7 separate regions of the Homo sapiens genome follow, and regions 1, 2, 4, 5, 6 and 7 are each reported to be linked to region 3. The links are microRNA targets in miRTarBase. Many come from high-throughput screens and were not tested one by one. Region 3 holds a microRNA gene; each other region holds the end of a gene's coding sequence. Distances are between the middles of the regions.

Evidence for each region. The annotated mature microRNA hsa-miR-513c-3p reads UAAAUUUCACCUUUCUGAGAAGA and lies in region 3 at 2,996-3,018, opposite strand. An mRNA with a match to its seed (bases 2 to 7 or 8) in the 3' UTR can be bound and repressed. Matches are read on the target gene's strand: a 7mer-m8 pairs with bases 2 to 8, a 7mer-A1 pairs with bases 2 to 7 and ends in A, and an 8mer does both.
Region 1: miRTarBase lists NACA2 as a target of hsa-miR-513c-3p. Seed matches in the 3' UTR shown: 7mer-m8 at 601-607.
Region 2: the mRNA of PLA2G4D is a reported target of hsa-miR-513c-3p. Seed matches in the 3' UTR shown: 7mer-A1 at 3,053-3,059.
Region 4: miRTarBase lists C16orf87 as a target of hsa-miR-513c-3p. Seed matches in the 3' UTR shown: 7mer-A1 at 2,513-2,519, 7mer-A1 at 3,008-3,014, 7mer-A1 at 3,033-3,039 and 7mer-A1 at 3,284-3,290.
Region 5: the mRNA of PRKACB is a reported target of hsa-miR-513c-3p. Seed matches in the 3' UTR shown: 8mer at 2,808-2,815, 7mer-m8 at 2,721-2,727, 7mer-m8 at 1,949-1,955, 7mer-A1 at 1,751-1,757 and 7mer-A1 at 1,429-1,435.
Region 6: miRTarBase lists TMEM107 as a target of hsa-miR-513c-3p. Seed matches in the 3' UTR shown: 7mer-A1 at 2,895-2,901.
Region 7: miRTarBase lists CHIC1 as a target of hsa-miR-513c-3p. Seed matches in the 3' UTR shown: 7mer-A1 at 2,260-2,266, 7mer-A1 at 1,927-1,933, 7mer-m8 at 441-447, 7mer-A1 at 176-182 and 7mer-m8 at 73-79.

Annotation. Positions count from the first base shown.
Region 1 is chr17:61,587,011-61,591,078 of GRCh38, reverse strand. NACA2 (nascent polypeptide associated complex subunit alpha 2) reads left to right here. Exons shown (of 1, transcript NM_199290.4): 1 at 1-658. The coding sequence ends at 546. Among named protein-coding and RNA genes, the nearest start is that of NACA2, 2.2 kb to the left of the region's middle.
Region 2 is chr15:42,065,158-42,069,225 of GRCh38, forward strand. It overlaps PLA2G4D (phospholipase A2 group IVD), which reads right to left. Exons shown (of 20, transcript NM_178034.4): 20 at 1,852-3,784. The coding sequence ends at 3,558. Among named protein-coding and RNA genes, the nearest start is that of PLA2G4D, 27 kb to the right of the region's middle.
Region 3 is chrX:147,186,722-147,190,789 of GRCh38, forward strand. MIR513C (microRNA 513c) reads right to left here and starts at 3,066; the gene lies at 2,983-3,066. All of the region lies in intron 1 of LOC105373347 (periphilin-1), which reads left to right.
Region 4 is chr16:46,799,204-46,803,271 of GRCh38, reverse strand. It overlaps C16orf87 (chromosome 16 open reading frame 87), which reads left to right. Exons shown (of 4, transcript NM_001001436.4): 4 at 202-4,068. The coding sequence ends at 320. Among named protein-coding and RNA genes, the nearest start is that of C16orf87, 30 kb to the left of the region's middle.
Region 5 is chr1:84,234,581-84,238,648 of GRCh38, reverse strand. It overlaps PRKACB (protein kinase cAMP-activated catalytic subunit beta), which reads right to left. Exons shown (of 10, transcript NM_182948.4): 10 at 151-3,469. The coding sequence ends at 3,344. Among named protein-coding and RNA genes, the nearest start is that of SAMD13, 65 kb to the left of the region's middle.
Region 6 is chr17:8,170,835-8,174,902 of GRCh38, forward strand. TMEM107 (transmembrane protein 107) reads right to left here. Exons shown (of 5, transcript NM_183065.4): 4 at 3,686-3,782; 5 at 1,623-3,438. The coding sequence ends at 3,369. It overlaps SNORD118 (small nucleolar RNA, C/D box 118), which reads right to left and starts at 2,754; the gene lies at 2,618-2,754. LOC105371520 (a long non-coding RNA gene) reads left to right here and starts at 3,276. Exons shown (of 4, transcript NR_188261.1): 1 at 3,276-3,364; 2 at 3,942-4,040. RefSeq lists enhancers at 2,201-2,290, 2,771-2,950.
Region 7 is chrX:73,680,761-73,684,828 of GRCh38, reverse strand. CHIC1 (cysteine rich hydrophobic domain 1) reads right to left here. Exons shown (of 6, transcript NM_001039840.4): 6 at 1-3,874. The coding sequence ends at 3,824. Among named protein-coding and RNA genes, the nearest start is that of CHIC1, 120 kb to the right of the region's middle.

The sequences.
Region 1 (4,068 bases), not on the chromosome of region 3:
GTACCAGGGATTGAAGAACAGGATTCCACCCAGACCACCACACAAAAAGCCTGGCTGGTGGCAGCAGCTGAAATTGATGAAGAACCAGTCGGTAAAGCAAAACAGAGTCGGAGTGAAAAGAGGGCACGGAAGGCTATGTCCAAACTGGGTCTTCTACAGGTTACAGGAGTTACTAGAGTCACTATCTGGAAATCTAAGAATATCCTCTTTGTCATCACAAAACTGGACGTCTACAAGAGCCCTGCTTCGGATGCCTACATAGTTTTTGGGGAAGCCAAGATCCAAGATTTATCTCAGCAAGCACAACTAGCAGCTGCGGAGAAATTCAGAGTTCAAGGTGAAGCTGTCGGAAACATTCAAGAAAACACACAGACTCCAACTGTACAAGAGGAGAGTGAAGAGGAAGAGGTCGATGAAACAGGTGTAGAAGTTAAAGACGTGAAATTGGTCATGTCACAAGCAAATGTGTCGAGAGCAAAGGCAGTCCGAGCTCTGAAGAACAACAGTAATGATATTGTAAATGCGATTATGGAATTAACAGTGTAACCATCTGAAAGCAACTTTTTTTGGTGTCTCAAAGGAGTAACTGCAGCTTGGTTTGAAATTTGTACTGTTTCTATCATAAATAAAGTTATGACTTCTTGCTGGAAAAAGAAAAGAAAAGAAATGCTCTCTTTTTTTGGTCTCCAAGTGCCGTACTCTCCGGATCTACCTTCTTCCCTGGCTTATTCTTCAGTTTCCTTTGTGGTCATCTTTTCTTCTACCCAGTTCTTAAATATTAGTGCATCTCAGGGGTCTTTCCAAGGCCTTGTGTTCTTTTCACTCTGCACACTCAACATAGGTGATCAGATTCATTTCTCTTGCTGATGATCCTCAAATAGTTTCAGTCCCATCTTTGTCCTAAGACACAGATTTGGATATCCAGCCACCTACTTACCGTCTTTCCTTGGATACTCTCCCGGCACCTCAATCACAGGATAGCCAGAAGTATACTCATCATCTCTCCTCTACCGGATGACTAGAGCTCCTTCTCCAGTGTCCCCAGCTCAGTGAAAGTCACCATCATACCCTTCATTCCCAAACCAGCTACTCGATACTCATCCTTAGCTCTTCCCTATCCTTTAAAATCTCTGGCACCCAGTAAATCTTCAAGTCCTATTGCTACTGCCTCCTGAGCATTTCTCAGATTCATGCACCTCTCTGTGTCTCTACTGCCATCATCCTCTCCCAGATTTTCCTAATAACCTACTAAACCGTCTCTCTACCTCCAGTCTCTCTTCTGTCCGATCCATTCTGCAACCAGAGTTGCATATCCCTTCTTTAGTGTATGAGCAACTGAAATAGTCTGAACTCTTCATGTGGCTTATTAGGCCTTGTATGGTCTGGCCTCTGACAGTTTTCTGCTATTCCCCTAAATGCTCTGGTCATACTGAACGTCTTTCAGTTCCTGCAACATCACACTCCCTTGCCCTCAAGCGTTTACACATGCTGTTCCCTCTACCTGGAACATTCCTAGTCATCTTTCAAATCTCGGCTTCAAAATCATTTCCTCAGGAAAGTTTACCCTAATCCCTAGACTAGCTTAGGTCTCTCTGAAATATGTTCTCATTACGCCTCTCTTTGCTGTTTAGTATTTGTCTTCTTAATTGGATGAAGTCTCTGCAAGAATAGTGGCCATGTCTTTCCTATTCACTGCTGGGTTCCTAGCCCAGTTCCTATAGAGTAATAGGGACTCAGTAAATAATTGTTAAGCAAATGAATGAAAGAACAAATTGACAATAGCTAGCCCTCAATAATTGTTTGTTGGATGAATAGTTTTAAAATCAAATATACTATTAAATACAACTTGCTGTGCAGAGGAGAGTTGCCCTCAGCAAACTCACTGCCATGAGATATGTTATTCCAGAATCTGAAATTCTGGAGTTCTTTTTGGAATTGCCTTCATAACATGTGATATGTTCTCCTAAACACTCTAGATAGTGGCAAATACTCACACTTTGAGATTGGATTTTATTTTGGAAGCAGCAAAATCATTCAGAGCCAAAATGGGTGATCAAGCTGGGTAACTCCACCAGAGGTGAAAAATTAATTATGTGTGACTATAAATTAATGAGACTGAGTTTTCTATATGGCTCATAAACTAGGTCATAAGGCAATTCCAATAAAGAAGTTCCAAAAGTGTTTTGATCTAATGCAGGATTGTTAACAATGTTTGTATAGCTTCCCAAGGGAGCTCCTTTGTAGGAGGTATTGCTCATTTGATGTATACAGTCAGACATTTTTTAAAAATCGTGTTTCTTTTAGACACACCGTCTATGTACATATGAGCTTTCTTCAAGCTTCAGCAAAAGCATAATATAGTAGAGACCATAAATTAGAAGTAATTGTTACTTATCATCTTCATTGTTGTGAATACTTACAACAATATGCAAATTATTGATCATCATAATTTGACCACAGGTCACCACAAAACAAAGTTACTTTAGCCCACCTACTTCAACTACCTCCAACAAAATGTTATGAAATGTAGATAATCCTTTGCCAACTAAGATAGTTCTCCAGGGTACCCACCACTGTGAGATTGGGTTGGCTCTGTTCACTGAAGTTAATGAGTGAGTCCAAGGTTCATGGCACAGATGGTGCCTTCACGCTCTTGTCAGAAGCCTCGAAATATGTATTAATGGTCACAAGGGAAATCGTGGGCAAGAACAGAACTGCAGAAATAAATCTATTAAAAGCAGCAATAATAGATCTCACTTAGATCCCCCACAATGTGCTAGAAATTATGCTAAGCTAAGCACTTAATATGCAGGTGTTACTTTTCATTTTAGAACACAAAGCTAAGAAAGGTTGATGATACTCATTATCATAGATCTCTCAATTAAAAGAGCTAGACTGAGAACTCATGGTCTACATGATTCCAAAGCCCATGTTCTTTCCACTTCACTCAAATTAAGTAATGAAGTGGAACAAGGCTACTCTCATATGCAAAAATGGTACATTTTTAGATCCCAACTCTACCACTGTAATTCTTTTTGTGCCCATTTTTTCAGCAGTGTCTCAGTCTTCTGGCAGCTTTACCTTCTTCAAAATGAGCATCAAAGTTTTCTGTTGGGTACATTTCCCTCAACTTTTTACTATAATGTTGAGCATTTTCTGGCCATGGTCTTGACATTCCTTGAAGAGCTATGCCAACCTTCTAACTTCATTGCCCCCTAAGTTGTTACTGCCCATCCTTCTCAGATGATCTTCCCCGTGGAAACTAATTTTCCATGATTTTTACTTCTTGTAGAATGGCAGGCACGTTCTTGAAGGAAGGCACCAAGCTTCCCTATGGAGAATTTTTCTTGCCACTTGATAATTGAGTCTGTTATGGGGAAGGGTGGGGTGGGGATGAGGGTCGATGGAATATTTCTAGTTACTAAATCTGATATCTGTATCTTGTTCAAGTACAGACTCCAGTGTGGATCTGGACCTTGCTACTGGACTCTGTCAGTCTCTAGGGAATGCATCAGCTGTCATAATATTTTTATCATTTCTCTGTCTTGATTATGCCATTATGTAGATGGAACCAAATTCAGTTACCACCTTTAACTAGGTGCCCTTGTTGAGGTTCTTGGAGAGAAATATGATTCGTCTTGTGTAGGTAGGCTGGCACATTATCTCTGTTTTCTGGCTTAATAGTAGCAAAAAGACTATGACACAAGAGTCTTTAGTGCCCAGTGATAGGGAAGCATCCAGCTAAATAAATGAGTAAAGTCTTGTGCCATGAAAATCTGTGAATCCATTTTTCTACCTGTTTACAAGTTAGCATGCTTTAACCTCATCTCCTTGTGCGTTGGACTTCATAGAGTTTATTTTAAGGTCAGTAGAGTCTGTTTCTAGCTCATCATTAATTTTAATTCTTTGTCTATCCCTTGCCATTCATCATGATTTATTTAATTAGTATTATAAGCATCTCTTGAGTCACCTCTGCTCATAGAGATCTTTTCTGGGCCCGAAAAATAATATAGAATTTTATAAGCCATCCTCTATTCTCGAAGATCCTCTTATATTGTAATGAGGAGG
Region 2 (4,068 bases), not on the chromosome of region 3:
ACAGCCTGCTGTCTTCCTGTCTCTGAGCTGGCCCCAGGAAGGGCCCACAGGCTGCAGGAAGAGCACTGTGTGATTTACATAGATGCCTTTGTGTGGGGGCCTGACAGCTGCTGGAGTCACGGTCCTCACCCGGGTCAGGGTGGGGCTGAGAGGGCCTCCGGGTGTTTGGGTAGTCAGGGGCTGGGGTGACAGCAGCTAGTGGGGGGCGGGTATATGAGACAGATAAACATCCACACTCACATGCCAGGTGTGGCTTTGAGCCTCAGCCCAGCCCACTCTCCTTGGCTGTCTGGCTGGCTTTATTGAAAGTTCGCCAAATGGAAAGGGTCTTTTTTTTTTTCTACCATGCCGGCTCACTCTCCAGAGCATCCGTGCCGGCAGTTGGCCAAACCCTGAGGTTGGGAGCACAGTCCTCCAGACCACCACATCTTCTGGGACGCCTGACCTCTGCAGCAGAGGTCACCAAACTGTCCAGTCCGAGGGAACAGTCCCCACAAGACTGCCCCAACTTCAGCCACCAGCCGCAAGTTCAGAGTCCCCAGGGCCACCTTCACTTCAGACCAGCTGGCTGCAAATTTGGGGGTGCTTACAACCACCCTCAGCTTCAGTAATTTTCTAGGGTGACTCACAGAACTCAGGAAAGCACTAACCTTATGATTACAGTTTTATGATCATGAAAAGATACAAATTAAAACCAGCCAAAGGAAGAGAGGCTTAGGGCAGAATCTGGGAGGGGTCCAGTTGCAAGCTTCCAGGGAGGTGTCCTCTCTCTTTGGGGTTCTGGACAGCATTGCCTCCTCTGGGCCGCAATGTGTGAGGATACGCACAGGGTGTTGTCCACCAGGAAAGTCTACCTGAGACTTTGGTGCCCAGAGACTTTACTGAGGCTTGATCAGATGCTGCCTGTGTGACCGACCTTTAGTCTCCAAAGCCCCCCAGCAAACAAAGACACTCCTGTCAGACAGGACATTCCAGGACCCAGAGGTCACCTCCCACTAGCCACGGGCAGAGACTGGACCTCTCTTTGGTGAGGTTAATTCTAAACTACGAATAGGGCACGTTACAAAGTCAGTGCCCAAAGACACAGAGAGGTGTGGCTGTCAGAAGCTCCAGTCCTGGATTTGCCACCTTTGAGGTTAGCAAGTTACTTAATCCCTGTGGACGCCTACCAGCCAGAGGCCAGCAGGAACAGCCCAGTAGCCAAACAAATTTGAGTTAACTGGTACCCATTGCACTAAGAAGACTGTATACTAGGAGGCAGTGCAGTCTCAGTAAGTGTGTGTGTGTGTGTGTGTGTGTGTGTGTGTGGTGGGGGGGTGCTTATTGAAGGATTTGGGCGTTTGTAGGGTGACATTACGAAATGTTCAAGGAAGCAAAGTGTTGCTGTGGATTGGGTGCTGTCAGGGAGTGGGGCGAGTCTATAATTGAGGATCTTCACAATTTTTATCCAGGAGGTGGAAGAACGGGAGGGACGAAAAGCCTGGTAGAGAAACCGCAGTCTCTCACGTGAAACAGGAGAGGGCACTGTTTGGCCATTTTTATGGTTTCACAGTGCCCTCATTTTTTGTCCATGCTCAGGCATATTTATGGAGTGGCCTTGATTCTGTCCTGCTGCGTCACGGGGGCGCGGTGACCCTGCCTGACACAGGTGCTCTGTGAAGTTTGTGTGCATCAGGCGGACACCAGGGACCTGCAGACGAGTCACAGGATGCTTTGTTCTGTTCCTTTCCCAACCCTGAGTTTCATCACTGATAACAAGGAGACGGTAATTCTACCTAACACATTAGGCAAATGTGAGAATTAAGGGGAATAATGTAAAATGCCCAGCATAAAATAAAACACAACAGCTAGTCAATTCCCATATCACTGTTAAAAAAATAAGAGTCCATGATAAAGGGAAAAAGTGAAGAATCAAAATAAAGCCAAATGCAGAAGAGGCACAGGGAAGGAAGCTGAGAGAGGACATCAGATGAGGGCAGTCCCTGAGCCAAGGTCTGTCCCGAAGCTCTCACTACAACCCCCACCTGGGGCCAGGTGTGTGTGTGTGTGTATGTGTACACGCACCCTTGCATGAGGGAGGTAAGAAATGTGCTAGCAGCTGGCCGTGGTGGCTCACACCAGTAATCCCAGCACTTTGGGAGGCTGAGGCAGGAGGATTGCTTGAGTTCAGGAGTTCAAGACCAGCCTGGGCAACATGGTGAGACCTCATCTCTACAAAAAACCATTTTTTTAATTTAGCCAAGTATGGTGTTACATGCCTGTAGTCCCAGCTACTTGGGAGGCTGAAGTGGAAGGATCACTTGAGCCCAGGAAGTTGAGGATGCAGTGAGCCAGATTGCACCATTGAACTTGGCCTGGGTGACAGAGTGTGATGAGATTCTGTCTCAAAAAAAAAAAAAAAGAAAGAAAAAGAAAAAGAAATGTGCCAGCAATAAACAAAAAGGTTTATATACCATAATCAAATGGAAACTGCCCCAGGAATGCAAAGTTGGTTTAATATCCAAAAACCAATTAATGCAATAGAGTACATTAATAAAATACACGACAAAACCACATGATCATGCCCATAGACACAGAAAAATCACTTGACAAAACCTAACACCGTTTCATCATAAAACACTCAATAAACTAGAAATAAAAGAGAACTTTCTCAACCTGATAAGGATGTCCAAGAAAAACCCACAGCTAAAATCACACTAAATGGTGAGAGACTTATGCTTTCTTGTCAGAGTCAGGAACAAGACAAGATGTCTGCTCTTGAAACGTGTGTTCATCATTGTACTGCTCAGGGCAATTGGGAAAAATAAATAAAAGGCATTCAGATCAGACAGGAAGAAGTAAAACCATCTCTATTTGGAGATGGCATGATCTGTCTACAGAAAATTCTAAGAAATCCGCAAAAGTATTAGAGCCGGTAAACAACTTCAGCAAGATTGCGGAATACAAGATCAACATTTAAAAATCCATTGTATTTCTATAAAATAGCAATGAATAATCTAAATGAAATTAAGAAAGTAACTCCACTTATCAAAAAGAATAAAATATTTAGGAATAAATTTAAACAAGTACAAGACTTGGATACGGAAAGCAGGAGGACAAAGAGGAGAAGGACAAGGAGAGGAGGAGGTGGAGGAGCAGGAAGAAGATGAGGAGGCAATGTGTTCAGGATGTCTTGTGATTCCCGAGGCCTGAAGCCACCTGTCAGGTCAGGCATCCCCTGTCCTTCCTGTCCCTACTCCTGATCTGCTGCCTCCGGCTTGCACTTCAAATCTATCCTGCTCAGGCATGGAAGTAATTGTGGTGTGAAAGTCTGTCTGGTTGGACCAGCTGTTCTACACACTGGCCTGGCGAAGTTATTTTCAACTCATCTCAAGCCAGCCATGAACGTAAGAGAGAAGTCTGTGTGTGCAGTTCCCTCTGGGCAGTGAGACCAGCTACAGAGGCCACCCAGGCCTGGGAGAGCCCAGAACTCCAACCAGGAAGGCCTGTGGCTGAGCCCAGCTACAGATCAGGTTATGCCCGCAGGCCCTGGAGGGTCCTGCAGCCTCTGAGCAACCTCAGGTCTGTGCCCTTGGAGGCCTCGCCTCTAGAGTCCGGTGCTTCAGCGCGGTCCTCAGGGCCTGCAGGATGGCACCCTGGCTGGTCTGCACGTTGTAGTCACTGAGCCGCAGCAGGCGCTCGAAGTCTTCCTCCTTGTAGGTCATGTTGGACAGGGTGTAGGGGCAGGTGGCCCCGGTGAGATCCACTTGGCCACCCTGGAGCTCTGCGGGGCTGCGCTGGACACCTGCCCAGGGGTAGGAGGGGTGTCAGGAGCAGGACGCCGGGGCTTCTACAGCCTGGCAGCGGCGCACAGGGAGGGCTGCCCCCGCTGGAGGGGCCCCTGCTTTCCTCCCAGCTCTCTGTGTCCTTTGCCCAGGAATGTAAATGTGGGTGGCAGGGTGCTCTTTGGATGGGTACTATTTGGTGGTAGAAAATACAATTTCATATTTCATTGCCTTGTGGCGTGACACCCCTTAGGCTATTCAGGCAGCCCCACATGTCTCTACATCGCTTCGAGGCAAGGTGGAA
Region 3 (4,068 bases):
TCCAGAATGAATACGTAAACATTAAACCAGGGTTTTTCATGTGCTAGGACTACAACACAGATCAAAACAGCTTCAACACATGCTAACAGAACTGACATTTTAAAACACAGATAATTTTTACAAAGTAACTAGTAAAATACTTAGTATACACAGGAGTGCTAAATTATATGTAGTTATTTATGCTGGATATATGTTATATGTAATTCAATAATGTGATAAATATTTTTATTCTGTAATTTGCCTTTTTATTATCTCAGTGGTCTTATTTGAAGACGTCTTAATTTTTTCAAAGTCTATTTTATCAATTTATTTTTAATAAATTTTATTTTTATATTTTGATATCATATGTAATAATTTAATGGTCAAAAATATTTTCTCTCATTTTTTTCATGCAATTTGATAGTTTGACGTTTTGGCTTAAGATTGTGTTAATTTCTGTATGTGGTTTGAAATACGATCAAGGTTCATATTTTTTATATATCTCACATTTCCCAGCATCTTACTGTTTAAATACTATCATTTCTTCATTAGATTGACTTTACAGCTTAGTCAAAATGAATTGGTGACATATATGGATATTTCTGGTCCTTCTATTTGTCCATCCTTTCTTCAGTACCACAGTACATTGGGTAATCTAATTAGACAGTAAATCTGGAAATTACAAGTGTAAATTTTCCAGCTTTGTGATTCTCTTTCAGATTGTTTTGGATATTCTAGTTTATTCGCCTTTTATATCAGTTTTAGAATCATCTTGCTAATGTCTACAAATATTTTTCTGGGACATTGGTTGGAATTGTATTACTTCTAGAGATTAATGGAAGTCTAAAAGTCTATAGATTTGAATCCTTCAATCCATAAATATGATAGTCCTCGCCACTTAATTAGTATTTTTTTTTAGTATATTTACAGTTTTAGCATACAGATGTTTTGGGGTTTCTATTGATACTGTAATAAATTGCCACAGATTTAGTTGTTTACAACAACACAAATTTATTATATTAGAGTCTAAAGGTCAAAAATCTAAATTAGGTTTCTCTTGGCTAAAATGAAGGCATTGGCAGGGCTTTGTTCCTTCTGTTGGCTCTAGAGGAGAATCTACTTGATTGTCTTTAGAAGATTCTAGTTACTTTCTCCATTCTTTGGCTCATGGCCTTTACCTCTACCTCTAGTCAATACTATAGTATTTTGCAATGTTTCTCATTCTAACCACCTTTCTCCAACGTATAAGGGCCCTTGTGATAATGTTGGGCTCACCTAGATAATCTAGGATAATCCCAATCTCAAAATATTTAATAACATCTACAAATTTTCTTCTACAATAAAATATGATGCTTACGAGTTCAGGGGTTACATTGTGAACATTGTTTGGGCGGGGGCTGTTACTCTGCCTACCACAGAGATCTTGTAATTTTTTCTTAGAGTTTCAAATAAATATTTTATGTTCATATTTTATTTTTCAATTAGCTTGATTTAATCATTGCATAATGTACACATATATCAAAACGTCATGTTGTACACCTTAAATATGATTTTTATGTCAGTTAAACCTTAATAAATTGGAAGAAAAAAGGCTGAGTAATACAAAACAGTATTTCACTGAAAAAAAACACAAATACCAGTAAATATACTATTCTTTTGAGAAATCATAACAGAGGTATGATAACAACTAAATTCTCTTTTATTTCATTTTAAGATATCACTTAAAGTTATATAAGTAAACATGCATCACTATAATACAGTTTTAGAAATTATATACTAAAAACAGTTATCACTTTGGAAAATTCTATGTACATACAGTATTGCAAAGTGACAAAATTTTTTTACTGTTCAGAATGTTGCCCCCACCCCAAAAAGATTGTATGTATTCTATTATTACAATGTTTTTCATTATGGAAAAGATACTTCAACTGTTTTTTTTACTTTCAGACATTAATGGTCTTATACATATTCATACATTCTGAATCTAAAAAAACATAAACCAAAATCCTGCCTGTAACCATATAGTAATTGTTTTTTATAGTTTTTCCCTTTCGGTGTTTATGCTGTAGCCTCTGTTTCAGTTGGAATCAAAATTGTATTAATCACTTACTATTTATAACATTTTTTACACATTTCCACAATATAAATAGCTTATTTATAACCTACTTCCCAAACATGTATACTAGATTAATGCTGCAGATGGCCTTACATAGTCTGGTGCTTGTCTTTCTCTTGCATGTTCTCTCTCTCTCTCTCTCCTCTCTCTCTCTCTCTCTCTCTCTCTGTGTGTGTGTGTGTGTGTGTGTGTGTGTGTGTGTGTGTGTGTTTATTTCCCTCTATTTCTCTCCATTAGGTTAAGAGTTAAGCGTCACCAAAAGAAAATGGGGAGAGAAGCCTAGGAGATATCTCTTGAGTATCAATTCTGTCATACCCTTCCATTCTTCAAATATACTCTTAAAAAATGGGGAAAAAAGATAATTAAAAAGGGTGAAATATTCTTGGGTGGACTATGCTTAACCCTTCATAAATTGGTGACTGAAGGCTTTGAAAGGTATTTTAACAGTCAATGAGAAAATGTTTTAGTCTTTGACAGAAAATGGACACTGTGGATCAGCAATGAAGGGACCTGAGAGGCAGGAGAGCCTTTTGGGAGCACTAAAGGACAATCCTTGCAAATGATGACTAGTTGATCAGTGAAAAGAGTTTAGAGAATTGAGGAATCTGGAGTAAAATGTCTCAGCTGACGAAGAATGGCTGTGGCCTCTATACAACGTATTTCTTATTTGAGCCAAGCCTCATTTGGCAAAAGTAGATAAATTCTTAAGGAACCAAAGTGCATGCGTTTTCTCAGGAGTCCACAGTTCTTATGTGTAGTCGTCTAGAAGGCACAAAAAGTTCCTTGAAGTAGCCCAGCACTGAGGAGTGGGTGCACAGGATGCAAAACAGGCATCACCATGCTCGCAGCTACAGCCCCATCCCTAGGGACACCACATATGCAGTGCATGCTGTACATTACTCTTCTCAGAAAGGTGAAATTTATATTTTAGTTCACATAAACGACACCTCCTTGAGAAAGGCACTGTACGCTGAATGGCTGAATGTGGCATCCCAGACCAAATGTTCCCTATTCATGCCGTTTTTATTCAAGTCCCTATAGGTGTATGCCTTCGCATGGCCACCAAGATTTATGCCAAGTAACAATGCAACTTCTAGCCCCTAGCACTCCCCTTTTCACCCTGCCCTGAGTGAGATATTAACATGCAGATTTTTGTTTTGTTTTGAGACGGAATCTGGCCCAGACTGGCATGCATTGGCGTGATCTTGGCTCACTGCAACCTCCGCCTCCCGGGTTCAGGTGATTCTGCCTCAGCCTCCTGAGTAGCTGGGATTAAAGCTGTGCACCACCATGAACAGCTAATTAACACGCCGATTTTTAGGCTGAGCAATGATAGAGCTTTTCACTTCTCCTCTTTTTCAGAGGTGAGTTATCCTTGTCTGAATTATCCCATTGGTTTTCCTGTAATTTTGCTTGTCTCATTAAAAATCCTCAAAGTCTTTGCTATTGTGAATAATGCCGCAATAAACATACGTGTGCATGTGTCTTTATAGCAGCATGATTTATAGTCATTTGGGTTATATACCCAGTAATGGGATGGCTGGGTCAAATGGTATTTCTAGTTCTAGATCCCTGAGGAATCGCCACACTGACTTCCACAATGGTTGAAACCAACCCAAATGTCCAACAATGATAGACTGGATTAAGAAAATGTGGCACATATACACCATGGAATACTATGCAGCCATAAAAAATGATGAGTTCATGTCCTTTGTAGGGACATGGATGAAATTGGAAATCATTCTCAGTAAACTATCGCAAGAACAAAAAACCAAACACTGCATATTCTCACTCATAGGTGGGAATTGAACAATGAGATCACATGGACACAGGAAGGGGAATATCACACTCTGGGGACCGTGGTGGGGTGGGGGGAGGGGGGAGGGATAGCATTGGGAGATATACCTAATGCTAGATGACGAGTTAGTGGGTGCAGCGCACCAGCATGGCACATGTATACATATGTAACTAAC
Region 4 (4,068 bases), not on the chromosome of region 3:
TTGTCTTCATTTAATCTTCATTTCAGTAACTCCTTTGTATAATTTAAAAAACTTTTTAGTTCAGTAGCATAGTAACATTTAATGTATATTGTAGTATTATATATAATACTGTCATTTAAAGAAATACTTGAAAGCTTTAAAAAATTTAAATTTACTGCATCTACTGCCTTTATATTAAACTTTCCCTTTTTCTTTTAACAGAGAAACAGGAAAAGGAAATTGACATCTATGCTAACCTGTCTGATGAAAAGGCTTTCGTGTTTTCAGTCGCCTTGGCAGAAATAAATAGAAAAATTATCAATCAAAGACTTATTCTCTGATACTTGTTTGCAAAATCTGCTGAAACTTCTGTCAGGATAACATCAGCAAATTCTCAAACAGTTATGGACTCTCAGGAGCATTCTGACTGCATCAATAAGGGCCATCGATTGTTTCTTTCTCGCCTGTCGTTTAGCCTGTGCCACACTTCGGGAGCAAAGCTGTGTAGGCTTGGACTGTTCTGGGATTTCCTTGTTTACCAAGGAGTATTGTCAGTGTTTTGTGTTTGGGATATAAGTAAGTGTATTTGCCAACAACAAAAAAAAACCAACAAAAATGCTGGATGGATGTTAAAGGATAAAAAGTGATGGGGTATGGGGTAGGTATGAAAACTAGGGTAATAAGATGCTTGATTGTTTTCAGGTTTGCCACCAGAGATGCAATATTTTAAATACTGTCAGAAAGAGTGATTTTTAAAAATATATATTTCAGATTTTCAGTGCTAACAGATTGCATATATACAGTTCATTTACTTTTATTAAATTGGCAATCGATATTTTATTGAATGGGGAATTAAGAATATAAACTGTAAATTTTGTCTTAAATTGATTTTTTTTCTTGGCCTTTATTTTTATTACTTAAGGTATGAGTTATATTTTAGGAGATACTTTCTAGACAGTTTGAAGTTTGGGTGCTATATGAAGAAAAACATTTAATGATATACTCAGATATAAACACCTTGTTTTCTTGAATGTAATTTATTTATTAGCTAAAAAAAAAAAACAAACTGCTCTCAAGATGGTGCCTGTTAACCTAAACATGAAATATATTTATTACATGCAAAATATTTCTTAGCCACTTTTAAGCAGTAATGTTTTATCTGAATGGATATTTGTTTCTATATCCTGATAATTATTTAAATTGTTACTTTCAATCTGGAAGAAAAAATAAACCTTAATATTGAAACTAAGTAGATTAAATAGTGTGATAAAAGTTTTTTGTTCTGGTGAAGTTTGTGAAATATATTTAAATTCTTAATTTTTCTAGTGTTAAGTCATAATCGTTTATAGTTGATTTATATTAAATGCTTTTGCATTTTGGCATATCAATTTAATGATTAACATATTCAAACTTGGTAATCACTCCCCTTATTTTCAGTCGCTCTTCCCCCAATCTGTTTAGAAATCCTTTTAAAGCCTTCTTACAGAAGATAGTCATCAGTTAGATTTAGCCCCCTTTTAAGAGAATCTCCCTTTCAATTTTAGCCGTAACATTATCAATTTCAGACTTCATCCTGCATCTCCCATCACCTCCTCAAAGAAAAAAGGTCAACATTTTTTCCTACTTTATTTAAATGGTAACCAGCAGAGGGAGCTTAAGAGGTACTCTAGATAGGATAAAGAATTTTCCTAAGGATTCCTTTTCCTTTAATCCCTGTATCTATCTGCAGGTACTACTGCAACTATTTTGTATGCATTTTATTTATTTATTTAGGAGACAGAGTCTTGCTCGGTCGCCCAGGCTGGAGTGCAGTGGCACTGTCTCAGCTCACTGCAACCTCTGCCTCCTGGGTTCAAGTGATTCTTATGCCTCAGCCTCCTGAGTAGCTGTGACTAGAGGCGTGCGCCACCACGCCTGGCTGTTTTTTTTTTTGTATTTTTTAGTACAGATGGGGTCTCAGCATGTTGGCCAGGCTGGTCTCAAATTCCTGGCCTTAGGTGATCTGCCCGCCTTGGCCTCCCAAAGTGCTGGGATTACAGGCATGAGCCACTGCACTCAGCCTTGTGTGCGTTTTAGAGTCTTAACTAGTAGTTTCCCCAATAATGTAATGTGATTTTATCTTTGAAACATACTGTAAGGAAACTTTTGATTTTAAGTAAAAAAGCTTAAAAATGATTAATATCTAAAAATGCTTGTATACATATATATGTCCTCAGAAAAAGCAAGAACAGCTTGTGGAATAAGCACGTCTTTAAGGAATTATCGATGTCAGAGTCTATCCATTTAAAGCTGAAGACCATTACAGGAAAGTCATGTTAAAATATTCATTGGATATGGTAAAGGAGGTACTGGTGGCTGGGCTGGAGCTTGCCGTATAGAAAAGTAATTACTTCAGATCTCATAATGTTAAATTATTGGCTTATTTAAAAATTTCCGTGGCAGAGAGGCAAATTAGGTTTCCTCTGTGACATAACCTATTTAACCAATTTTTCAAAAAATTGTACTCTATGAGCTTTCTTGTTATAAAGCTAAAAAATTTAATTTGTCTAGGCATGTTGTAATGGTCCCAGAAAATATTACTTTGTCACTGGTGTCAGAGAAACCTCTGTCATCAGCAGATGTCCTAAGAGTATAATTATAGTTCTTTACTTAATCCAAAATTTGTTCTGCTCTGATATCTATAAATGATATGATTATTCAAAATACCTTGAAATGATTCCACAATTAGATTAGGTCTGTTGAAGATAACTTATTCTTAAATATGAGTAAGATTAAATAAAAGTAGTTTGAGAGTTGTTACTCCCTGCCTCAACTCCATGGTATTCCAAAATGTTTTTGTGGGCACTTTAATACTTGTAGTTTGATTTTGTTTGTTAGTTTTAGAAATGAACATTTCTTAGATTTTCATGGGTATTTTTTGGCTGTATTTAAATGTAAATGATATAAAAGTAAGGGAAATTGTGCAAATTATTTCTTGTGTAGTAATCAGTGGAAGTGATCAAACAGCTTGAAGCAGTTTATGATGAGAAAATTTAAAATTGCAAATGACCTGAAAATTTAGCCAGTCTATTCTTATTTCTTTAAATTTCAGAAATACTTAAGAAAAAAAAAAAAAAGGTCAGTATGACCTCTGAGTTGCTTCCTAAAAGTAATCAGATAGTGTTCTCCCTCAGATAAGATTTCAAATTGAAAAGTATTTGACTTCTTTAACTCTAGTAATTGCACTTGATTCTCTAATTCTGATCATTAAAATGACTTGGCAATATTTAATTTTGGCTTGCCTTTCAATCTGCATGTTTGTCTTAAATTTAGAAAAATTAAGCTCTTTACTTACTTTTATATAAAGTATTAATTGGCCAGGCATGGTGGCTTACACCTGTAATCCCAACACTTTGGGAGGCCAAGGCAGGAGAGTTGTTTGAAGCCAGGAGTTTGAGACCAGCCTGGGCAACATGATGAGACCGCGTCTCTACAAAAAGTAAAATTAGCTGGGTGTGGTGCTTCCAGCTACTAGGCAGCTGAGGCTAAAGGATCACTTGAGCCCAGGAGTTCGAGGCTGCAGTGAGTGATGATCTTGCCACTGCACTCCAGCCTGGGAGGCAGAGCAAGAAACACCCTGTGTGAAAAAAGTATTGAATTTGTTTGATTCCACTTTCAAAATATGCTCTAGATACAGGTAGTCATTCTGCCAAATTGTGTTCTTCTCTAAAACATTTTGTCCGTCATTCTTTGAAACTCATTCTTAATTATTTCCACTTTACCTTCTAGTTTGGTTTGATGCCTTATATTCTTGCTAGTTAAAAGCATTTTTTCCCTAGTATTTTCTGTCTTTCTAGCCTTTAAGGCATATTGTTGTTAACAAATCTCTTATTTAAGTTAATTAAAGTTTTTTCTGTGCAGCTGGGTTTTTTCTTTTACTACATGACAAGCTTCATTTTTACATTTGGAAGTACATGTATATATGTTTATATATTTTTATTCTCAGGATCTATTTTCTAGGGAACTATTTTTTTAAATTATTCTTTTGTGCTGCCTTAACCCATTTATTATAGTTTGAATATTAGTAGTACTTACTACTCAAAGATTACA
Region 5 (4,068 bases), not on the chromosome of region 3:
GGCGGATATATTCCTCCCCAATGTGCTCTGCTCCCACCACCCAGAAATCAACCCAAACACATAAAAACTAGGAATCTATAAGCATCTCTTGTATCAGCGGAAAATAAATCAGGAGATGAGGGCACCAAGTAGAATTCACGACTCAATCAATTGTCTTATCCATTGAAGGTACTTTAATTTTGCAGTTATTGATTAATTAAAAAACACAGTTGTTTTCAGCATTTCCTAGCTACAGTAGTGCATAGGAAATTCCATTCTAAACAAAGAAGTAATTAATGAAATAACAACACACCTTAACATTTTACATTGATAGGTTACAGTTTACAAGGTGCTTTCACATACATTATTTCATTTGATTCTTACAACAAGCAGAAAAAACAGTGGGAAAGATTTTTTTTTTCAGGCTTACAATGAGTATTTTCAGGCCAATGGGCAGTTAACACAAGAATATACCAAGAATGAGACAGCAATACCCATAAGCCACAATATCGTTTTTGGTAGGTTGACAGTTTGATTCAACTGGGTATTCAGCATCGGTGAGTGAGAAAGGAATTAGGACAGACACCAAGGCTCTTATGATATTCAAATAATTTTAAGAACACTGTCAGAGATAAGAAGAAAGATGCCCTAAAATATATTGCCTTATTGAGACTTACTTCAAAGCAATATACCCTTCAAAATATCAGATAAAAAGACAATCTTGTCATCGACTGTGAAAGTTAGGAGGAATCTTACAAACTGCCTAATCCAGTTCTTCCATTTTACAGACAAGAGAACTGAGGCTGAGATCATACTGATAGTTTTCCAGCCTGAAATTCAGATGTCTTGACTTTCAGTCTAGGGCTCCTTCTTACACAATGCCATCTCTTAATTATTTACTGAGCATAACATAATATCTTCTGTTTCAAATATGTAATTTTAGGTTAAATACTGATTTATGCTACTTACTTCTTATTCAAGTTTTTATCTTATTCTTGGCTAAATTGTGGCTGAAACTGGGAATGTTACATACTTTAAAAATATTCTAATTTAGTGTACTTGATTGGTCAGAAATTGACTCCCTTGACATATTTGCTCATGACAAGCTTGCTCACGGCCTTTAAATAGAGAGTAAAATGGAATGGCTGAATAGCCCTCAAAACCAACGTATGTCTAGGGATCATCTACCTAAGGTAGATTCTACAGCTGGGCACTAGTAATTTCATAGAAAAAAATATTTTTTAGAATTCATAGAAATCTTTTTGATTACTGAAAACTAAATTGTAATAATCAAATTGTCATCCCCATGACTTATTAAAATAATTTTACAATAATATACAACAAAGCTACCATAGAATTTGTAGTTTACATATAGAACACATTGGTCAGCATGTTCTTGGGTCTAAATGAAATACAAGAAAATTAAAATATTTTATACGAATGATGTTTTAAATTTATTAACATGACGATATGCCTTTGTTACACAAAACTTGCTAGAGCAGAGTATTTTATTTTTTTCTTGCACGTTTTAAATATAGATGGACCAGTGAAATCAATATCAGCATTTACATGACATTACCATGCAGAAACACTTGATAACCGAAAGACATATAGATTGGTAGAAAGAACATCTCAGACAGGTTTTTTTTATGTCTTCAAAGGTTTCACCAGGGTGTGGTACAGATGAAAAGAAGTGGTGTTAATGACCTACCTGCACCGATAATAAAGCAAATAGAATGATTATATACATTAAGATCAGCTTGATTAAAAATAAATTTTATATGCAGGTAAATTGATCATTAAAATGAACCCAGTTTAACTCTTCTCGTGTGTTGTTTTAAGGTAGGTCACTGAAACGCAGAGATAAAATCAGATGGGGAAAATTAAAAGCAAAGAAAAAAATAGCAAAACAAGTGGGTTAAGCCATGGATTCTCAACAAACACTGAACTAAATGTGCAAAAGTGCTTGAAATTTCCACCTGACAGCAATGTTGTTAAGTCAGTTGGCAAAAAAAAGTGTAGGAAAAAAACTAACCTCTCAAATACCAACATTGTATCTGCATGATCGATCAGACATTCTGTTTACTGAGAGAACAGAGGTTAGAAATTATGAAATATCTGAAAATATCATACCTCAAAATTAAAATACAATTGTGGCAGTTTTATACACTTTGTTCCCTTTCCTCATTGATGAGGCATGGGATGAAAGCAGAAGTTGCAGCAGTGCCCCTACCCTAGGCTCACAAATATAGTACACCACAATAATTAGCTGGAAACAACTTCTTTTTAACGGTTACAAAACAAAACAAATGTAAACCCTCATTTAAATATGAATACCTCTATATTGTTTCCAAAAATCAAGCCATTTTTGACTTTGCAAAGTATAAGTATTTATCTAAACCAATGTTCTTTTTAGTTTGCTTATTTTCCTTTAAAAAGTTTATGATGAGGACTATTAGAGAAAATTTAAAATTTGTCACTTTCATTAATCATGTTCTATTAAAATACTGGCTAAAATCCTTAAGGAACAGTTAAGGTTTAGAAAACTTAGAACTCTTCTCTAATACCTACAGAAATGCTGGTACCAAGTGAGAGAATCTGGGTGATGATCCATATCATTAGTTTTTCCTGCTGAATGAGACACGTTTGTCACACTACACAGGCTGGTCACTTCATTACTCAAGGAGAGGAGGATATAAAAGGAGGGAAAGGGAACTAGAACCTCTGATCTACAGCCTTCCAAATTTCTGGGTCTAGCTGTACTGTATTAGTCTACCAAAATTTATTGCCAGAATAGTGAATTCCAAGAAAGTTAGTCTTAATTTGTATAAATTTCCTTGGTGATAAGACAGTCTATCTTCAAAAATTACCAAGAGTTTTGGCAAAACCAAGTCTGAGCTACTCAAAGAAATAATAATTATTAGAAAGTTTATCTTCAAGCCATTGACCAACAACAATATTGGCAATAACTACTGAAAGCAACACTTATCCTTCCCTTCAAATATCACGTAGCCATAACACTGCCCATCTGAAACACCAACAAAATAAAATGGAGCACTGTTTAGAGAAAACCAATGAAATTGGAAAAGGAAGAAATGGATATAGGAGAGGAGAAAGACAACCCAAAGAGAAGTAAGAAAGTGGTCTAGTACTGTGTTATGGCACAGACAATGCTTGCTTAGCGGTGCCTTGTTACATAGGTGGATGCAGAGTGCGCACACGGGATGATGGCAATAAAGACCTCACTCAGTCGTTGGAATGAAGGAACTAGGTAACTGCTTCAACAAGGACGGTCTCAGCTCTACCTTATCTCTCAACAGAGTGCAAACACTGAGTGTGAGCTCAGATGTCATCTTGTTCCTCTTTAAAATTCACCAAATTCTTTTGCACATTTTTCTGTTATAGAGACACGGATATCTTCTTCTTCATAGTCATCAAAGTTGCTGGTATCTCCAGAGCCTCTAAACTTTGGTATGAATGGAGCTTCAACCTATAATTGAGAGGGAGAGAAAAATAAGAAAAAGGAAAAAAAAATTCCTGAGAGTTTCCAAACACCAAGAAAAATAAATTCCCACTGTTATTACACGGTGAAATCCTTAGATGCCATTAGGTTCCTAAAATATAATAGTGCTAGAAGAAGCAGCAAGCAGTAGGTTAGCTATTAACCTCAACATTTTGATTCAAGGAAGTATGCAGGTCAACAAAATACTTAAGAAATTTCTGGGATAAGAGGAGAAGCCAAGATGGCCGAATAGGAACAGGTACGGTCTACAGCTCCCAGCGTGAGGGACACAGAAGACGGGTGATTTCTGCATTTCCATCTGAGGTACCAGGTTCATCTCACTAGGGAGTGCCAGACAGTGGGCGCAGGTCAGTGGGTGCACGCACCGTGTGCGAGCCGAAGCAGGGCAAGGCATTGCCTCACTCAGGAAGCGCAAGGGGTCAGGGAGTTCCCTTTCCTAGTCAAAGAAAGGGGTGACAGACGGCACCTGGAAAATCAGGTCACTCCCACCCGAATACTGCGCTTTTCCCACGGGCTTAAAAAACGGCGCACCAGGAGATTATATCCTGCACCTGGCTTGGAGGGAC
Region 6 (4,068 bases), not on the chromosome of region 3:
GTTTCACCATGCTGGCTAGGCTGTTCTTGAACTCCTGACCTCAGGTGATCTGCCCACCTCGGCCTCCCAAAGTGCTGAGATTAAAGGCGTGAGCCACCGCGCCCAGGCTAATTATTTTATTTTATAGCATGCTTTTATTTCCAGGAAGAGTCCAGGCTTCTCTTTTCCCAAAAGTTCCAGCAATAGTCCTGTTGTCAAGGTTTATGCTTGAACCAATCACCGCGCCCAGGAAAACAGAATGAGCCTAGAGAGGAATGGTAGGGAGGGAGTGGCTGTCAGCCTCTTCCTAACCACGCAGACTAAGAATAAGGGAGGGTCTCCCAAAAGAAAATGGTGGTGCTGCCGGGCGCAGTGCCTCACGCCTGTAATCCCAGCACTTTGGGAGGCCGAGGCTGGCAGATCACGAGGTCAGGAGATCGAGACCAGCCTGAACAACATGGTGAAACCTCGTCTCTACTAAAAATACAAAAATTAGCCGGGCGTGGTGGCGCGCGCCTGTGATCCCAGCTACTCAAGAGGCTGAGGCAGGAGAATCGCTTGAACCCGAGAGGCCGAGGTTGCAGTGAGCCGAGATTGCGCCATCGCACTCCAGCCTGGGCGACAGAGCGAGACTCCCTCTCAAAAAAAAAAAAAAAGAAAGAAAGAAAGAAAGAAAAAGAAGAGAAAATGGTGGTGCTATTACCAGAAAGAAAGGATGGATACTGAACTGGCAAAAACAGATGTCTACTATGATGGGAGAATCCCAAGACCCAGTCAACTCAGGGAAAAGACACTGAGCAGTTACCACAGGCCTGACACTCTGCTACCCTTCTCCCCTGACAGACAGCAGTGGCCGGCGCCTGTAATCCCAGCTACTCGGGAGGCTGAGGCAGGAGAATCGCTTGAACCAGGGAGGCGGAGGTTGCAGATCGCGCCACTGCACCCTAGCCTGGGCGACAGAGCAAGACTCCATCTCAAAAAAAAAAAAAAAAAGTGTGAGTGTGGATGAGGGAACTGAGGCAGAAAGAGGGAAAGTGACCTCCTGCCCATCACACGGCCAAAAAGAGAAAAAACCACACTGGGACCCCGGCAGGCAGTCTGGCTACAGAGCTTGTTCCTGTAGTCCTGGCCCTGGGCTAGGGCTCACATACGTGAGCTGAGATCTGGAAACCAGCAGCATCTAGTTGATGTTTGAAAACAAGAGATGGGCCGGGCGCGGTGGCTCACGCCTGTAATCCCAGCACTTTGGGAGGCCGAGGCGGGTGGATCACGAGGTCAGGAGATCGAGACCATCCTGGCTAACACGGTGAAACCCCGTCTCTACTAAAAATACAAAAAATTAGCCGGGCGTGGTAGCAGGCGCCTGTAGTCCCAGCTACTCGGGAGGCTGAGGCAGGAGAATGCCGTGAACCCGGGAGGCGGAGCTTGCAGTGAGCCGAGATCGCGCCACTGCACTCCAGCCTGGGCAACAGAGCGAGACTCCGTCTCAAAAAAAAAAAAAAAAAAGAAAAGAAAAGAAAACAAGAGATGGATGAAGTCACCCGAAGAGCAGTGATCACCAGCACTTACGGGGCAAGCAGAAGAGACAACCCAGTATTATGTCCCCAGTAACTGACACACTGCAGGTACTCAATAAGTATTTATTGAATTAATGTAAGAAGGAACAACCAGAACAGTATAATAGTAGGCAAACCAGGTGAACCACTGTTTCAAAACTAAGGGAGAAAAAAGTGCAAAAGAGGGGAGTGGGAGAAACGCGGTGGCTCATGCCTGTATCCTAGCACTTTAGGAGGCCTAGAGGCCTAGTGGGGAGGACGGCTTGAGCCCAGGAGTTTGGGACCAGCTTGGGCAACACAGTGAGACCCTGTCTCTATAGAAAAATTTTAAAACAACCAGGTGTGGTGGTGCTCACCTGTAGTCCCAGCTACTTGGGAGGCTGATGCAGGAGGATCATCTGAGCCTGGGAGTTTGAGGCTGCAGTGAGCCATGATCCCACCACTGCACACTGCACTCTAGCCTGGGCAACAGAGTGAGACTGTCTCAAAAAAAAAAAAAAAAAAAACCAAAAGAGGGGGGTGGTCAACATACCATATGCTGAAGAGAGGTCAATCTCAAGTCTGAAAAGTGACTCTGGATTTGGGAAGAAGTCATTGGTGATGATGAGTTTCTTGGGGGTGTACTGGTAGATTTTTAACAACCAACTCTCCAAAAACAAATGTATCCATGTATATACATCTGCGCCGTGCACTCCTGCCTTGGCGACAGACCAAGACCCTACCTCAAGGAAAAAGAAATACAGTTCCTATTGAATACCATCCTGAGGGCAACCACCATGTGCACAAGACTGCAGATATTTACTGATGTGCAATGTTTCCTGAGAAGTGAGGATTAAAGTTATCAAACGACAAAAAACAAAGAGCCCATTTGTATTATTTCACTGCCTAAATTCCAGAAAGCAACAAAAACCAAATCACAATTTTCAAGAACAAACAAATTTAGCAAGACTGCAAAATAGACAAACAGCAATAGCAAGACTGCAAAATAGACAAACAGCAAGGTTATCCCAGTCAGAACTTCATAGCTATGTTTGTGGATATCTGCTAATCAGCATAACACAAATGTAAGTGATCGTCAGAAAGAATCAGACAGGAGCAATCAGGGTGTTGCAAGTCCTGATTACGCAGAGACGTTAATCACGTTTCATGCATCTCCAATCATCATGTTCTAATCTGCCCTCCGGAGGAGGAACAGGTAAGGATTATCCCACCTGACGATACAGACAAACAGCCGACATTCTGCACTCAGTGAAAAAGATTCCGTTACAAGCTAGGGTGAGTTCATAACGCGCTGGTATGAGCAATCCTATTATTTAGCGTCCTTCCAGTTGTTTTGCCATATTAGCTCGCACATTTTTTTAAATTTTTTTTTCATTCGGCTGCCGAAAAGGAATAAATTACTTCTTCCCAGAATGCTCCGATCAGTTACGTGCCGGACGTTCTAACTGTACGCACTTTCTATTTACATATCTCCGCCCACTCCCTTCCGCCAGGCACCTACCGTAGTAACCAAAATAGAAGCGATACCAAGTATCTTACGGTCTGCAGGACTAGAAAACAGCGTTGTTTTTTTTTTATTCAGTAGTTCAGCCATCTCAATTGTCCCCTAAAACTGTATATAAGTCTTAATGTTACTACAAAACATATTTTATTACAAAGCACTAAATACAATGCGGATAATCCCAGACTCAAGACGTAATTATTCCAACACATATCCTCCAGCAGAAGCAGTTTCCGAGGGGAAAACCGAAGCCTATGCCTTCCTTCTTCCAGGAATACGAAGCGGCCCTTGCCCCTGTAGGCTTCGTCCTTAGGTTCCCGTCATGAAGGTAATCAGAAGGGTTTCTTTTTCAGCCCAAAGACGGTGACGAATAAAGCCATTTCAGTGACAGCTGGAAGGGCACTACCAAGGCAAGTGGTAGATTCAGAAACCCTTTCAGTATAAATACCCAAATCTCCAAACCAGAGACCCCACCTCTGAAAGTGTAGGGCAGGTGGCATGGGGGGTAGGGGATGAAACTTTAAAAGCCTACAGGATGTTGAGTGGATCTGGTATCTCACACATGGAGGAAAGGGCTGGGTAGGGGAAAAACCTTCAGGTTTAGGGCCAACCTTCCTCCCTCATCCCCAAATATTGGATGCTACCACACCTGCAGAAGACAAAAATGTACCAATACGTAGTGCACTCCCAACGCTCGAATATGAAGAAGGACAGGGCCACGGATGCACTACAGTGAGCCCCAATGGCTTGGGAAGGCACGAGATTAAGGAAAGTCTTTGGATCGACAGACAGTGATGGGTCAGAAAAGGCCAGTGGTGGGGCTGGCATCTGCATTCAGGTTCATCCCTTGCTCCCTCACCATGTTTCAAGGGCTAGAGTCAGCAGCTCTGACTTCTGAATTTTAGGACAGTCATGTGAGGAGAGACCAGAAGTGACTGCACAGATCGGACCTCAGGCTACCCTACCCCTTATCTGTGGGCCAGCCTGGATCCTTCAGATGAGAGGTAAGAGTAGGCTCTCCTTCTGCTATGC
Region 7 (4,068 bases), 74 Mb from region 3:
AGATATATATCAATTGTTTTAGTCCACATACTACATGAACAGGTATTAATAAAACCTATTCATTTTTATGGAAAATTTCCCAATTGTTTGCTATTTAAAGGAACCCAAATAATTTGACAGTTGTTGCAAAATATTTTTAAAGTATACTTTTATAGGCATGAGAATCTAATTTCAATAAATTTGAGCACTTATAATCAAATTAGCAAAAAGTATTTCTACTATGTGAAACTGCTCCAGTTAATCAGGTGAATATAATTTCTATATCCTCCTAGGTCAATATAGTACATTTTAATACAATATTGTTTGGGAGCTTTATGTTCAAGTAGTGAGGTTTTATTTTTTTAAATGGCAGCTTATTTGTAAACAAAATAAAAGTGCTAATGATCTTTTAAAGCTTTCATACATTTGTTCAAAGGCTTACACGTTTTTAAACTTTATTCAAATTTCATCAAAAATGGTAGATAAAACAGTTTGATTGCTCAGATATTAGTGTTTACAGGCCATAATAATATGAATAGTATGTACATTAAATACTTAAATGGGTTTTGGTGGGGCTTTAATCAAAGACAACTGTCCTTCCAGAACTAAATTAAATTACATGTTTACTAGCATTAGAATTATACTGTTTTTTTAAGTGACTGATAGTCCGGTTCTGTAATATTTTGTCACTAATATATCATGATTGGGGAAAAGGAAGGAAAGAAGCTTTACATAATAAATAAAAGATAATACACTAGTAAAGTATTCTTAGACCTAGTTGAAAAGGATGATTTCTAATCTAATCATCTACCAATTCATTTATTATGCTTCCTTACACGTAATGTGTTATCTTTGTTCTAAAAAGACAAGGCACTTCTCCATCTTCTTCTAAAGTTTTACTACAGTGGTCTCTTTCCTAAATTAGCATTAGGAGGGAACAAAGAGTGGAGACATATCTGGGATGGAGTTAATAAATCTGTAAATAACACTTGCCCATATTAGTTATTAGGAATAAACATGTTATTGGCTTTTAGGACAAGCTTAAAAATAGCCAGTTGGACAAATTTATGAAGCCAGAATCTTGGGCCAAATGAGAAACATTGGAACATTAATTTTAAAAAACAATTTTAGCTTGTAATCTTAAAGCCTTGTGAGATTTATATACTTTGGCAAATACATGTTTTGCTCTGGAAACTATCACAAGTTTCATAAAGGAATATTATGTAACAAAGAAATTCAAAATTACTTTCTTCAGTCTAAAAACAACTTTCACAAAAGTATGTTACTAACCTAATGGAAAATTACAAGTATGTTCTATCCTAAGCATAACAGAAAAAAGGCTCCATGGGGGAGGAATTAATCACCAGTGTGCTGTGTCATTTTAGCATTCACTGCAACCAATTTCACTGAAAACAAAGCAACCCCGCCCAAACATTACAAAATACTCAATTGCTAATCAGCCCCCTGCAAAGGAAAACAGTTTGAAAAAGTAGTCATACAAGAGAGGAAAAAAATTGGTATTTTTTTGGGTAGTTGAAGAAACTAAGATGAGTCAACCAGCATAGCGAACAATAAAATAATAAACTCGAGTGATTAGAATAGGCTTTAAAATTAAGTTTACACATGCTGACAAGTGGTTTTTGTGACAAATGCTACTGTAACTTGTATTATACTGTGTCATTTCCAGATATACTGTATTCCCATTCTCAATAATTGTTTCATGGAAACAATTCACCACTTCATGCTGTTCTTTGAGCAAAACCAAGTGTGATTTATACATGGCAGAAAAAGTTCCTATGACCATCATATGATCAAATTCTAAGGTTATAGAAAAAAATAAGATTTCTAAGGATCAACACTTAAAAGCAATTTTCTATCAGTGAAAATGAGATATTTTGTATTATGCTGAAAATCGATTTTGGTATTAAAATATCACAGTTTGAAGCATAAATTTGATAACATTAGCTGGAACATAAACCTCAGATACAATTTTTCCCGACCTTAGCTACAAAACAAGACATTTGGTATACATTTTCAGAGGCTTCTACCTTGTCTATAAAAATACACCTTCAATTTTGCAGCAGGCAAACACATAATATTTGCAGGCATACACATTACTAAAGGTTAGAGATTTGGGGTGACTGAGTGGCACAGAGGTAATGGGGCACAGAGGAAGGTGGAAAAGTGTTTGTGCAAACAATTATAATCACATATAAAATAGTGTCTTCTTTTTCCTCTCTTTTTTAAACTGGTCAAGGACTGTGGATTTCAAATTAGGCATAAATTTTAAGAGTGGCTTAAAAAGGCTTGACCTTCTATGAAGAAATGATTGTTCACTTCACTGAGATGAATCTTGCCTAAAAGGTTTACTAAAAGCAGTAAGAGTAAGATGACAAAATATTACTGAGCCCTAGACACTTTTATTTTTAGCACTATGAATTACAAATAATGCCTACAAACAGGCATACATTTGCAGTTGAATTAATGTGATATAAAGCTTTCATTATACTGAATTTTCAAATTCTAGTTGTGTGGTGCTAGCAATCATTTTAATTGTGAAGAAAAATAGAGAAATATGGACCAAATAAATGTTACATATGTGCTGAATTTATAAACTAAAATACTTTTGTCTAAACACTTGTCTTTCCTCATTAATGTTTTATAAAGGATCATCAAAAACAGAATTGAGAATTTTTTTTCAATTATGAATCAGCTGCTATATACTCTTTAGCTACAGCTTCTCAAATAGTTCTCTCTCTTTCTCAAACTAGAATATCAGAACTGCAGAAAGGTGTTAGTGGCTTTCAAGAGGGTCTAGATACCTTCTGAAGATGTCTGAAATCTCAAAATACTCCTTAAAAGTCATAATTGTGTGTATTTTCAAAGGAAGAAAAGGCTAATAAATGCAGGATAGTGAGACTGTGAAATGTGTCAGATGTCAAATAGTTTTTTTGTGGGAAGGAGTAGACAACAAAATGGAAATTATTAAACGAAATGGAAAAATAAAGGTCATGGTTTCAGGTGCAATACAGAATATCTGAGATAATAATTTCAATTTTAGTCCACTTGTTACAAAGGGCAACCTTGCCCTACACCTGAAATTCTTAACATACTCATTATGGCCTTGCCATAAAACAGCATGTTAGCAGTTTCTACATTCAAAGGGATGCTTGCAAACTTCATTCATATTAAAATCTATGTAAAATTGTTGGCAATACAATAAGAGTAATGTTACATTATGTAAACCATGGCATACCACATTTTACATTATGCAAAGAGGCAATATTTACAAGTCTTTAGGAGTTTAAATATTTTATCCACTAACATAAGTGATAAAGCAAAGTGCAGGACAAAACCAGTGCCATTAATTGCATGTCCTTTAAAAGCATGTCCTTTAAAAGCAGAGTAAAACCATTTCTAAAAGCTACCAAAAGCTTATTTAAGTTTGTCCAGTAAGGGATTACAGAGCATCAAGTAGCCTAGAAAAATGATGCGAGTTTAGAAACAATGAGTATGAAAATTATAAGGCAGCATGCTCAGAACAAGTTTTTGTTTTTTAAACACCAACACTGATGATTTATCTTTAATGGCAACTATCTATATATGTATATGCACACACGCATGTGTGTGTATTTAAAATTGAGAGTGCAAAACACAAGCCTCATTGAAAGACAAAAAAGATGTGCAAATTTTCTTCATAAACCAACACAAAAGAGCGAGAAGAATATTCTACCATTATAAAGAATAAGTTGAACACAGCAAAGGAGACCATCTTCATTCCAAATCTACAAGGCACTAAGGGTAGGAAATGACAGGTAACACAGAAGTGACTGGATAAAACTCCTCAGTCAGGTCGGAATATGGGATATTTTGGTAAGAATTCTATTAGTATTACCTGCAAAATAAAAACAAGAATATATTTACAAAATATTTTTCATTTAATATAACTTATAAATAACCCAGAAAGTCTATAATCATTTTTCATAGGACAATATTTCAATCCTGAACCATATAAAGTAAGTGAAATACATGAAAAAAATATGTAAAGAACTTAAACCACAAGTTGTTATTAGATTGGCAATTTAAAAA